Linked DNA regions of Homo sapiens. The protein of the gene in region 1 interacts with the protein of each later gene in a pairwise test. Each region holds a gene or a part of one and is shown on either strand. Other genes may lie near its edges.

Region 1 (6,539 bases):
CATTGCTGTGGCCCCAACCTCGGTGCCATGTTACACCGGCCCCTGGCGTCACCCACTAGGCAGGCTGCTGCTTTCAGCCTCAGCCCCTGGCCCAGCCCCAGCAGGCCCTCAGCCTGGAAGAGGCCCCTTGGGCCTAAGCCTCGGGTGGGAGCTCAGGGCCACCTGTGACGTCTGCATCTTCTTGGAGAGAGAATAAAGTTTGTATTTAAGTGGTCTCTGCCTATGTGGGAAGGACTCTGGGACTCCAGGGCTCTGGGAGGAACCCTTGGGCAGCCAACCCCCAGTGCAAGCAGGAAGGGCGAGCGTGTGGTCCCCGGCCTGTACCCAGTCCAGGTTTCAGGCTGGCATTCCTAGCCCTGAGCTGGGCAATGGGTGGTGTCAGGTGTCGTGGCAGAAATGACTGGGGCTGTTTCTGTGACTGGGCCAGGAAAACTCTTTTCCTTCTCCAGCCCCACGCCTTTGCCTGTTGCCCCCCAACCCAGGCTGGGACAGTGAGGCACACACAGGTTGGGCTGGAACATTTATTTTACACGGAGCCGGGGGAGTGGGGGCCAGGGGGCAGGGGCAGCAGCCTTCCCGGGCAGGCCTCCCCCGGCTGCGGCAGCTGCACCTACTGGATCAGCTTGAAGGACTCCCCCGTCATCATGGCCACAAACTCTGGGAACAGAGGGGCAGGTCAGCAGCTTGCCCCGGCCCAGCCAACGGCTCCCAGGGCTCCAGGCCACTCACCCTCATAGTCGATGGTCCTGTCCCCATCCTTGTCGGCCTCCTTCATCATCTGCTCCGCCTCCACCTCGTTGAGGGGCTCCCCTGCGTTCATTAGCACGTACCTACGGGGCCTGGCGCTGAGCCACTCCATCGGCCCTGCCCGTGCCCGCCCACCACCCGCCCCCAACCCGGGCCCTACTTGAGTGTGTTCCAGTCAATGTAGCCCTTGCCCTCTTTGTCAAAGACACGGAATGCCGCCCTCAGCTCGCTCTCCTGGTTCTGGGCCTTCTCATGGTAAACTCCCATTAGTGCCAGGAAACCATCGCAGTTGAAGAACCCTTTGTCTGCAAGGGGCACAGCTGGGGCTCAAGGGATGGGGCACAGCACTCCCCATGGGCTTTGCCTCTTCCCCCCGTAGGCACTGACACCTGACCCAGGGCCCCCCCGAGGCTGCCCACCCCACTCCAGCCATGAGCTCACTGTCTCTGTCCACATCCTTGGCCATTGAGGCCAGCTCACTCTTGGTGGGGTTGATACCCAGCAGGCTCATGAGCCACTCCAGCTCCCCCGTCTTCACCTCCCCGTTGCCCTCTTCGTCGAACATCTCAAAGACTCCCTTGTACTCCTTGATCTGCTCAGCCGACAGGCGCTCTGTCTGCAGGGGACACCCGCACCGGCCTGACCAGGAGCCCCTTCTGCCCCTGTGTCCAGGGAAGGGTCAGAGGTACCCCCTGCACCCATTCCTCCATTGGCAGCCTTTCAAGGTGAGTGGTAAGAGAGGAGGCCCCCAGCGGAGAGCAGGCTTCCAGGACAAGGGGTCACACGCCAGGGGTTTGCAGGGCCAGCAGGGCTCTGCCAGGCAGCTAACAGGGGCAAGGGCCAGACAGGCAGGAGCCAGCGTGCGAGGGAACAGCAGCAGCTGCAGGGCCAGGCGGGCCAGGCAGCGGCCCTGGAGCCTGGCAATGGACACCAGGTGAGGCAGGTGAAGGAAGCCGAGAGCAGGGTGGGGAGGAGCCCAGCCCTGGCCCGGGAAAGGCTTCCAGCCCAGGATTGGGATACAGCCCAGGAAGCAGAACCCTGGGCTCCAGCCTGTGTGGCATTCCGGAGGGAGAGTCCAGCACCGGGCCACACCTGCCTGCCACCACTGCTGCTGCCCATCTGGGAGCCAGCTTTCAGAAAGGGCTGCTCCACCCTGGCCCCGGAACAAGGGCTGTGTTGGTGGCAGCAGGGCTTGGCCCCCTCTTCTACCTCAGCCCCTTCCTGCCCAGGCTCCGTGGCAGGTCATTGCACCTCCAGGTTCCAGCTCAACCTACCCAGCCAGCCCACCAGAGACTCCATCGGGCACAGAGAGCAGCCTTACCATGTCGGTGGTTGTCTGACAGGATTCTGCAGGGTGGTGACACCAGGGCTGCTGTGGGCAGAGTGCTGGGGCAGTGGTGGCAGCTGAGTTTTAGCTGGGCCTGGCTGCCTGGGGTCCCCGGGGTCCAGATTCCAAGAGCCTTTTATGGGTGGGAAATCCTGCCGGCCCTATTTTGGGACAGGCTCTCGGCCTTATCCACAGGGCCCCTTCCCGGCCCGCTTTGGCCTGGGCTTCCCCTGACCCTGAAGATGGGCACCGAAGGCTAAGTGCGGGGGCCAGGAAAGGGCTGAGACATGGCGGGACCCTCACACACGCTGTTCCCCGTGCTGTTCCCTCTTCACTGGACCAAGCTCCAAGTCTACCTTCCCAGAGGTGCGGCCCTCCAGCAGGTCTTCATGGGACCCTGGTCCCATGCTGTCATCACTTACCAGTGAGATTTCTTGTTGAAGACCCATCCTGGCCAGCTGGTGCTCAGTGGCTCAGAGCCTGGCCACCCTCCCATCCTGGTGGACTCAACATTGGCCCCGTGCCAGCATGTCACAAACTCTCAGGACAGGTCGAATGAACAAATGCATGAGGCACCGCTTGACCATCTTGTACAGGAGGGGCTGAGGGTCCACCATTCAGGGAGGAGACAGCAGGACATGGGCTGGGGGTGAAGGGGGAAAGGGAGCAAAACAGGGCCTGGGGGCTGGGCTGCCCGCTGGAAGCCAGGCACAGTTGGGGGCTATTTTGGGGTTTCTCAGGGAAACCTGATCTCCCTTCCACTCAGAACAGCAAAGCTGGCTCCCGAGGGGGCCTGGTGCCCAGGCTGGTCCGTATCAACATGCCACCGTGGAGCACACGCCTGCACACGTGTGTTCCCTCCTCAGACCCGCACTGAGCCCTCCCTGTCTGGGTCTAATTACCCACCAGACTCCCAAAGCCAGGGTCCAGCTCCTCCCTGCCCCACCCAGGCAAGAGTGTGAGGATTGCAGTGGCAGGTCAGGGCCCTCAGGGTCACACTCACACCTGCCCCCCGACTGGCCCCTTGATGGCATGAAGAGTCTGAGCAGGTGGGGCACTCAGTGTCCCCCGCCAGCCCAACCCTCTGCCTGCCAGCAAACCTGCAGCTACAGGATGGCTCCCGCTGAAACCCAGGCCAGCTGCTGAGACTGCAAGATTGACGCTGACGAGGGCAGGCCAATGGCCCAGGGCACCTCCAGCCAAACGGGAGCCGGGGCTGGAGGGAAGCGGCCCTGGGTCTGGTGGGGCCAAGGGAGGCCCTGACCTTCATCCTGGCTGCTCCCTGGCCTCAGCTTTCCCCTGGGCTGGGGCAGGGAACAATTCACGCACTGAGCACCTTCCCCCAGGGGCATAGAATGGAGGGAGCCGCAGCACCCAGGCCAGGGCCCATCCTGGGTTCTGGCTCAGGGTCTCCAGGTACAGGCCAGCTGGGTACAGAGACACAGAGAACTGCACTGGCCTCGTGGCCCTGGACAAGTCCCCACCCCAACAACTCTCACAGCCAGTGGACAGCAGGCTCTGCCTCCTCCGTTCCCAGGCTTCCAGCGTCTGACATTCCTGGGCCACAGCCCTGAAGGTTCCAGACATCCTGATGGGCTTACGAGTGAAACTCAAAGCTGTGACCCCTGGAGCCCAACTTAAAGCAGAGGGCACACCCCCCGCCCCGCCCGTAGGAAGGGGCAACATGGCCACAACCACCATCAACCTCTCTCCTCTCCATCTAGGCTTCTACCCATATCCAAGACCCAGTACAAGCAGCAGAACAGGTCCTCGCCCTCTAACCCTCTCTCCTCATGCTGACCAGCCTCTGTGTGGCCTTCGGACATACCCCGTATCTCTAGGACCTGAGACTCATCCAATCTTTATTTTCCTTCTTGTGTCTCTTCTGATCACCGAAGGGCTATTCTCCATAAGAAAACAGAAAAAGAGGCTGGGCACGGTGGCTCACGCCTGTAATCCCAGCACTTTGGGAGGCTGAGGCGGGCAGATCACGAGGTCAGGAGATCGAGACCATCCTGGCTAACACAGTGAAACCCCGACTGTACTAAAAAAAATACAAAAAAATTAGCCAGGCGTGGTGGTAGACACCTGTAGTCCCAGCTTCTCCGGAGGCTGAGGCAGGAGAATGGCGTGAACCCAGGAGGCAGACCTTGCAGTGAGGCGAGATCGCGCCACTGCACTCCAGCCTGGGCAACAGAGCGAGACTCCATCTCAAAAAAAAAAAAGAAAAGAAAAGAAAACAGAAAAAGAGAAAAACCCTGTAACAATTAGAATGCTGCCTCAGCCACGTTCAGGTGCAAGTGCAGTTGTGTTCATGGCCGTACCCAGTTATGCAGCAGATCTCTAGAACCTTTCACCTTGCAAAACGGACCCCCGCCCCCATTAAACAGCATCTGCCCTCTTCCACCACCCCCCGCCCCCCAGCCTATGGCAATCACTATTCTACTTTCTGTTTTTAAGAATTCGACTCCGGGGGCCGGGTGTGGTGGCTCACGCCTGTAATCCCAGCACTTTGGGAGGCCGAGGTGGGTGGATCACAAGGTCAGGAGTTCAAGACCAGCCTGGCCAAGATGGTTACACCCTGTTTCTACTAAAAAAAATAAAAAAATAAAAAAATTAGCCGGGCGTGGTGGCAGGTGCCTGTAATCCCAGCTACTCAGGAGGCTGAGGCAGAGAATTGCTTGAACCTGGGAGGTGGAGGATGCAGTGAGCCGAGATTGCGCCACTGCACCCCAGCCCGGGTGACAGAGTGAGACTCCATCTCCAAAAAAAAAAAAAAGAATTCGACTTTTTTTTTTTTTTTTTTTTTGAGGCAGAGTCCCGCTCTATCTCCAGGCTGGAGTGCAGTGGCGCGATCTCAGCTCACTGCAACCTCTGCCTCCCAGGTCAAGCAATTCTCTTGCCTCAGCCTCCCGAGTAGCTGGGACTACAGGCACCCACCACCAAGTCCGGCTAATTTTTTATACTTTTACTAGAGACGGGGTTTCACCGTGTTAGCCAGGATCGTCTCGATCTCCTTACCTTGTGATCCGCCCACCTGGGCCTCACAAAGTGCTGAGATTACAGGCATGAGCCACCGCACTCGGCCTGGAATAGGCGTCTTTTTTAAGGCTGAGTAAAATGTTATTCTCGGGATGGACCACACTCGGTTTATCCACCATCTGCTGATGAACACTTAGGTGCTCCCACCTCTTGGCTGTTGGAACTGCTGCTGCAATGAATATGGGCGGGCATGAAGGTGTTTCATAGATGTGATTAGTATTTAAATCAGTAGGCCGGGCATGGTGGCTCATGCCTGTAATCCCAGCACTTTGGGGGACCGAGGCAGGGAGATCACAAGGTCAGGAGATCGAGACCATCCTGGCTAACATGGTGAAATGCCGTCTCTACTAAAAATAAAAATAAAAAAATTAGCTGGGCATGGTGGTGCGCGCCTGTAGTCCCAGCTACTTGGGAGACTGAGGCAGGAGAATGGCGTGAACCCCAAGGAGGCAGAGCTTGCAGTGAGCCGAGATCGTGCCACTGCACTCCAGCCTGAGAGACAGAGCGAGACTCCACCTCAAAAAAAAAAAGAAAAAGTATTTAAATCAGTAGACTTTGGGTAAAGCACATGACCCTCCATAATGTAGGGGGGGGCCGCATCCAGTTAGTTGAGGACCTTAAGAGAAAAGACTGAGGTCCCCCAAGGAAGAAGGAATTCTGCCTCCAGACGGCTGCAACATCAGCTCTTCCCTGGAGGTTGCCTACAGTGCAATCACACGGGCCAATTCCTCAAAATCTCTCTCGTCTGTGTATATGACAGACGTATATATACAGACATACACACATATACACATCCCCCTGCTTCTACCACAGAGGGTCACCGCAGACATCACCACTGCCACTGAGGGTCTCCAGTGAGAAGACACTGAGAGACCCCGCCCCACTCCAGGGCAGCAGCCTCAGCTGCAAACCCACCCCACCTGAGCCACATGACACAAGGTGGTCATTGTGTCCACAGGCAGGACTCTGATGGTCCCTGCAGGTGGTCTAGGACCCCTTCTGTCTGGTTCTGCTTCCCCCTTCCTGTCACAGGGGCTGACCCCTAACAGGGAGCTCCTATCCCAAACTCCATCTCAGGGTCAGCTTCTGGGGAGCCCCAGCTGTGACATGATGGATGTTGGCGGTGGACCCCCCGCTGCCAAGCTGCAACCAGGCACCAGTGCGGGACGAAGACACAAGCCCCTGCACAGTCACCTGTTACACTCACTGGTGGTGTGTTGGAAGGGCAGAGGGATGGACCAGGTAACTGCCACCAATCGAGGCTACAAATGGTAGAAGGAGAGAAAGGGGCACTTGAAAGCCAGGGGTGAGCCCAAGTGTGAGCGTCGGGGGCCCTCTGTGGTTCAGGCAGCATCTCTGCTCTCCACTCTGCAGTGGGAGGGCAGCGATTCGGAGGACCAAGCCCAGGACTTAAATCAGAGCC
Region 2 (7,034 bases), on another chromosome or scaffold:
GCTTAAGTCTATCAGCTGGATCAGAAATCTTAACCATCACAGCCTCAGTTTACAAGGTGCATTCTTTCTCCCTCATCGTACTCACCCAGGCACAAGAAAAATGACTACCTTTGTTCAGCCACTTCATAGAGCTTTTGAAAAAAGAGTTCCTGGAATAATGACAGTCAGTCCCACGTTCTCCTTTAGGTGTCTATTTTTAAGTTGCTTTTCAAAAGAACTCATTTAGGAGAGCTAGGGGCAAGGTTGGAAGGCATAAGGACAAACATCTGAGCGTGAATTTAAAAACGTGACGCCCTTGCCCTGTTTAGGGTGCGGGTTGGAGACGTTCCAGGTCACGTAATCAAATGACAGCTATTAATTGGACTTGAGACCCCTTTGGGAAAAGCCTCTTCGTAACCCCGAGTTTCACGGTCATGGGCTGGGCTTTTTTCTTGCTTTGGCGTGGATGGGAAAGTGCAACTCAGTACAAGGGCTGTGGCTCTTTCTTTCGTCTAGACATTGGCCGCAGGGCAAGGCGATGCCCATCAAAGGCATGGTTTGAAAAACATCAAGGACATTTAAGGGTAAATCTTTAGATACACATGTCTGTTCTTAGCACCCAAACAGAATCCATGTCGAACTTAATGTATACGTTAAAACGTACAATAATCTCTAAAGGAAGAAGAAAGCTGTAAATGGCATTTTTCTTGACAGAGATTGCAAACGGGAGGCTACATGCAGTTAACTCGTGAGGTGAGGACATAGAAAAAACATGAATTAAAAAAATGTTTTGCCACTGATTTTAAAATATCATACATACAACAGTGGTTTGGGGCTTACATAGTTGACTCTCACGATTGCCCAGTGGAGGGACTAAGGTTAAAACGAAACAGATCCTAAGAAGAGAAAGATTATGGCTTTGAGCTTCTTACAACGTAAGGGTAAACTCAAACAGATGCTAATGGGTGGCTGATTAGATTTGTAAGGAGCTGTATATTTTAGACCAGTTGTTAAGCACAGATTCTGAGGGTGACTGCATAAAATGTGGGTTTTGCAAATGGTCTGCAAAACCCAGCAACAAAGGTCAAATGACAATTCAACTTCTTATGTAATTATAACCCCATTTGAGGGTGTACCTGCAGCAAGGACTCTGACAGATCAAGCAAGATCAGTTTTAGTTTCGTTGGACAACACCATGAAAGATACTCTTTCCTCTAATTGGGGATATTAAGTCCACATAGTCACCAGTTACAATCTGGGTTTGAAGTTCAACTTTTCCTAATAGAGAAGAGGTCAAAATTAAGCAGGAATATGTGTTTCCCAGGGCCGATGATTGTTAAGAGTTGCCATAAAACTTGTTTCCCCAGTCATGCATTCTATGAAGAAATGCTGTGGGGTTAAAAAGTCTCAGGTTTTCTCTTTTGAATTTTAAGAATGACACAATGCAAGATGTATATTTTTTTTTCAAAAAGAAAATAAATGACTCATTATTGATTTTATTAAAGGTTTAGTGAAGTAGTACGATCAAGATGAAAAGAAAACATGTTTTTGTAATGGAAAGTTTCTTAAACTTATGATGAGCACATTCTTTGTGTTATTTATTTACTTATTTATTTGAGATGGAGTCTCTCTCTCTTGCCCAGGCTGGAGTGCAGTAGCGCGATCTTGGCTCACTGCAACCTCTGCCTCCCAGGTTCAAGCAATTCTCCTGTCTCAGCCTCCTGAGTAGCTGGGACTATAGGCTCCTACCACCACGCCCAGCTAATTTTTGTAGTTTTAGTAGAGACAGGGCTTCACCATATTGGTCTGACTGGTCTCGAACTCCTGACCTCAGGTGATCCGCCCGCCTTGGCCTCCCAAAGTGCTGGGATTACAGGTGTGAGCCACCGCACCCAACCTGCGTTATTTTTTAAAATTCTAATTTCTACTCTCAGTGTTTCATTAGAGATGTGATCGGGGGAAGGCATTCACAATTTGTCTATGGTCCTTCTGTTCTTAGACCACTGGACACATTGAACTATTTGGACGCACAGATAATATCAGGACCTAAGCCTGGGGCTTTTCATTAATTTAAAATGACTTTCTAGAAAGGTCTTCATACTGGGAGAAAAGAAGAATTTTAGGGGATGCATGCATACAGGTTTATGTTATATTTAATGATATTTTTATGAAACACAACATTAAATATCCTGCTGTTAAAGTATTATAGGCTGCATAGTATTGATTAGAAGCATCCCAGACTGTGAACTTCCCAAAAGGGACAATTTTATGTCATTCACAAGTCTGACTGCTGGTTGGGCACTTGGTAAATGTCCAGTTACTGAATGAATAAATAAGTTTTGGGATGTGGATTTATCAGTTGCTGTAATCAATAGGCCAGGCACCCTCTTCTCTAAATGTTGAGGCTTGTGGTTGGGATACATTTGGGAAAGTTGTATTCCATCTTTTGTTCTTTACTCCTGGTTTGAAACCTGTGTTTGCCATGTAAATCCTTTTATGTGGGAAATGGGTGCATTGTTATATACGCAACATAAGTGCTCTCATGACAGTAAAAGAAAATGAGAAAAAATAAGAAGGATCTCAACAGAAGGACCTCTTGACATTTGGGAAAATGTCAGGGAAAATATGGGAACGGAGCAAGGGACGTAGAATTCTAATATCCTATGTTTCCCTGTTGTCTCCATTGAGACTAGCTCACTTCAGATAAGCTCAATGAAACTCAAGCAAAAGAGACTGTAGCCAGAGAGGCAGAGCCTGTGAATACCTTGGAAAGTGGTTTGCTGTATTGAAACAGAAAACCAATTTGACTGTGATTAGAAGAGAATAAGAGAGAGTCTAAGCAGATCTGTAGTAATATAGCCCCAGTGCCCAATCTCCATCAGCCCAGTTGTAAACTCTGGCATATTGTTGAAGGTAAACATCTAGCACGCGGAAAGCAAGTTCCATATTATTGCAAGGAAATAATTTAATTATCATCTAAAATTAATTCTTAATAGCATACTCATAATATTAATTAAAATAAATAATTGATATTTGAATATTTAAATATTTTAGTAAATTTATATTTGAAATAGGAATATATGAAAATTTATATGCAAAAAGGGATGGATTCAAATTTCTTTTCTTGGGGAGTTCGAAACTGAATTGCACGTCCATATCCCCATGTGATTAATCTGATAGGAGCTCTGCTTTCCTATCATCCCCAGGGATGAACTATTTACCATTCTTCTTCCCATTTTTCAAATGAGGTGCAATGTGAACAATGAATACAGAAACGTTTTCCAGTCACCTGGCACAAGGGCCTTTGGGGTATAGATATGGGAATGTTCGATAATGGATTGTTTTGTGCCACAAACAAAGCAAGCTTGCCACAGTCATCAATGGCTCAAACCTATAAATGCCACATTCATGTTGGGGCCATTCTACATGAACAATTTAGCATAAGCCACACATTCCAGGCATGGGTCTGCTTGTATATTGTTTATGCCTCACAAAGAGCTCTGAATTTATGCTTCAGAATCTCACTGAATTTACTGCTCATTCCATTTCTGGAAGGGAAACACTTGGCCCATATTTATGACATTGCCAGTAGAAAAATCAATCACCCACTAAATGCCATTATTTTATATTTTACTCTTAACCTGCCATTTTATAAATGAAAGGAAGACAAATTAGACTCATAAAGCAGGAAGGTAATCATCCACAAATTGAACATTTAAGGGCAAGGAAGCAAAAGCTGTGAACTGTTCCAACCATTCAAATAAGGCAATTTTCCTCACAAAGGAGCTAGAATAGAGAGCAGGGGAGTCCCTCTCTTCAAGGTTTCTGCCCTCCATTTTAGGACAGTCTTGGACTTGGATGAGACTAAAACGTCTCCAGCCATACACGAGTCAGACCTCTTCCTCGTAGTTCAAAAGACAACTTTTGAATGTTAAATATTATTTACGACGGTTTGATAGCAAAATGGGATCCAGATTGGCTTGAGATCACGCTATTCCTGGTATAACAATCCAAGTCTGTGGTATAGTGGCATGACAAAAGACACAGTCATCTGTTCCCGTAGCACCACATCTGTGCTTTGGTCAATAATCGAATGAAGTAATGGTTATTTTAATTTTATATGACCTCTGAGAAAAGGACTCCAGAAGTTAACAAGACCCATTAACATGTGTCTTAATCAAATAAGAGTAAAAATATAACAAGGAAACACAGAAACACAAGAGGGAGAAATAATATAATTTCTTCCTTTTTTTTCAAGATCTTTTTTTTTTTTCTAAAAAACAATACAAGCATCTGTTCATCAGGTGGTTAAGTTCTAGTATTTTAAAAAAAAACCTAGTTAAAAGGTTACACCTGCTTTAAAATTTATGATTCTTATGTACAGTAGCTCCCCCTTATCTTCAGATGCCCGGTGAATGGCTGAAAGTGTGGGTGGTACCGAATCCTACACATGCTATGCTTTTTCCATCCGATAATACCTGAAAGTGCTGCTAAGTGGCTACGGGCAGGTAGTGTAGACAGTGTGGATACGCTGGGCAGATGAATGATTCATGTTCTTAGACAGCAAGCGGTTTCATAACGCTACTCAGTAGAGTGTGCAATTTGCAACTTATGAATTGTTTATTTCTGGGATTTTCCATTGAATATTTTTGGACTGTGGTTAGCAGCAGGTAACTCAAACCTCAGAAAGTGAAACCAAGGAAGGTTAAGGGGGAACTACTGTGTGCAATTTCTTTATTAAATAATAGCCACTGTTTCGTTAGGAGTTGTTAGAGAAATATCACTTTTTTTTTTCTTGTACCCAGCAAAATGACTAATTGTATTTAGGGTTTTCTTTTTCAAATTGTAAATTTTCTCACAGTTTTTTTTTTGTTATGCAGAGAAATCTCTGATGCAATGAATGGGTCAAATTTTGAGCTGAGTGTGGCTGTGTGACAGCATCCTGGGTGCTGGTCTCCTCATCTCTGAGGGGTGACAGCATACACACAGACACTGGTGCTGCCACAAGTCTGCCCATGTCCAAGACGGGCGATGGTGTGGAGCCTTCCTTTACAGATCATAACTCTGCATCTTCCAGAGAGTTTTAGGTGGAAATAGCAACAAGCAAAACTTCAAACCATTATGCCATAGTGAGATCTTCTCCTTAAAACAATAAGGGTGACTTGACGTGATTTTATCCTCTTGCCTTCTATGACTTTCCACAATTGTGGTTGCTCTAACAACAACTGTCTGTTTTAGCATATCAATGTTTTGGGAACTATCTTTTCAATCTTCCTGCAGATCCATAACAGAACTATGGAATAGTGTCCACAATGACTAAGGATATCAATACTCCCAAGTTTTTGATAGTGTACCTTAATAGGGAAAAAATTTGACCATGTATACACAACAAATTTTTATTTATTTTACAATTATGTATACATGCGAATATGCCAATATAGTAAGAGTTAATCATTAAAGGAAGGGTAAGGAAATCTGTAATTCCAATAGACTTTTTGGTAACTGTACTTCTTTTTGAGTCTAATTTGATGGCTGAGGTTTTTAAGCTTGTATTGGTGCCCATGAAGACATCCTAAGAAAAGAAGGTTTAGTTAGTGCTTCTATCGTTTCCTTGGTGTTTGTGCTGATGGTGTTAGTATTATTTTCAGTCTATGATTTAATGCAGAATTTTTCAATTAAATCTGAATATATATTTAATTGAAATATATATTAAATATATAGTAAATAATATATATATGATTTACTATTTTAACCACTTTTAAGTGTACAGTTCAGCGGTATTAATTACATTTACACTGTCGTGAAACGGGTCCACAGAACTTGTTCATCTTTCAAAGCCAAGACTCTGCACCCATTCAACAACCACTCTCCATTACCCCGCCCCTATCCTCTGGCAAACCCATTCTATTTCTTACCTCTATCAGTTTGACTACTTTTGGTACCTCCTGTGCGTGGAATCATACAGTATTTGTCTTTTTGTGACTGGCTTATTTTACTTAGCATAATGTCTTCAAGGTTCATCTATGTTGTGGCCTGTGACTATATAGGACATTTTAAAAGCCACTTACCTACTGTGGGAAGATTAGTTTAGTTAAAGGTAGATTGTATAATCTGTAAATCCTCTTAATGGAACATAAGGAACTGCAAGGTATCACATGATGATATTCTGAGAGCAAGTCAACAGGCAGTGTGTCTGGGACAATCTCCCATTGTGGGACTCCTACTCTTTCCTACCCACCAAGTGATGATGTCATTATCAATCCAGATATTAGCTATGAATGAAACCTAATTTTTAAATTGATCTTAGATCCTACACAAATATAAATAGAAATTCTAAAGTCTTCTTTACCATGAGTGTTTGTGGCAGTGAAGCACCTTACAACCCCAGAGGTGCCGTTGACACTGTGGTCTGTGCCAACAGCACTGCCTGGAGTTGTGCTGTGAACAACCTATGCCACTGAACATGGTGGCTCTGCCCTTCCTTGAGTTGATGTCAGCCTGCTTAAGGACGGTTGACCTTGAGAAAGGCTGTCGTTTTTATAGTTCCACTTAGAATTCAGGGAATCAGAGAAGGGCATCGTTGTCATTTCATTCAAAGTGGTCATTTTAAAATAGGGGACTGAGTGTCCAACGATGAATCTTGTGCAGAATCACAGAGCTTCTTCAGAGAAAACCTAAGTTTCCTTTCCACATTTTCCATGCTATTACATTTCTCATTTTCTGGATACAACCTAATTTCTTTTAAACCTGTCCAAATTCCACTTAGGGTTTGCACAAGTAATTTATTAAATTAAAATTGTCCTGAATATTTTTATTAGCCTTGAGTAAAAAAAGAACAGCCACAGAAATCTTGACAAAGCCATTGTTTTGTTCATCAGGTCTTCCACTCTATTTCTAGGGATTCCAGCTTCCACCCTGACACCCCCAGCCTCCCATCCCGTCACACACAGAGAAGCTGAGAAATGTTAATAATGCTTCCCTGTGGAATGTTTCATTAAGACCCTTGTTGGGCATGGTGGCTCACTCCTGTAATCCCAGCACTTTGGGAGACCCAG

Evidence for each region.
Region 2: the proteins of CALML6 (region 1) and PCP4 interact in binary tests that used the Homo sapiens proteins (3 or more experiments, as listed by UniProt).

The regions. Positions count from the first base shown.
Region 1 is NC_000001.11:1,911,265-1,917,803, reverse strand, and holds CALML6 (calmodulin-like protein 6), read right to left. Parts: upstream 2,545-6,539; 5' UTR 2,524-2,544; coding exon 2,497-2,523; coding exon of another isoform or gene 2,431-2,496; intron 2,120-2,430; coding exon 2,069-2,119; intron 1,364-2,068; coding exon 1,189-1,363; intron 1,053-1,188; coding exon 908-1,052; intron 831-907; coding exon 730-830; intron 658-729; coding exon 611-657; 3' UTR 508-610; downstream 1-507.
Region 2 is NC_000021.9:39,870,422-39,877,455, forward strand, and holds part of PCP4 (calmodulin regulator protein PCP4), read left to right. Parts: intron 1-7,034. UniProt on the Homo sapiens protein: Functions as a modulator of calcium-binding by calmodulin. Thereby, regulates calmodulin activity and the different processes it controls.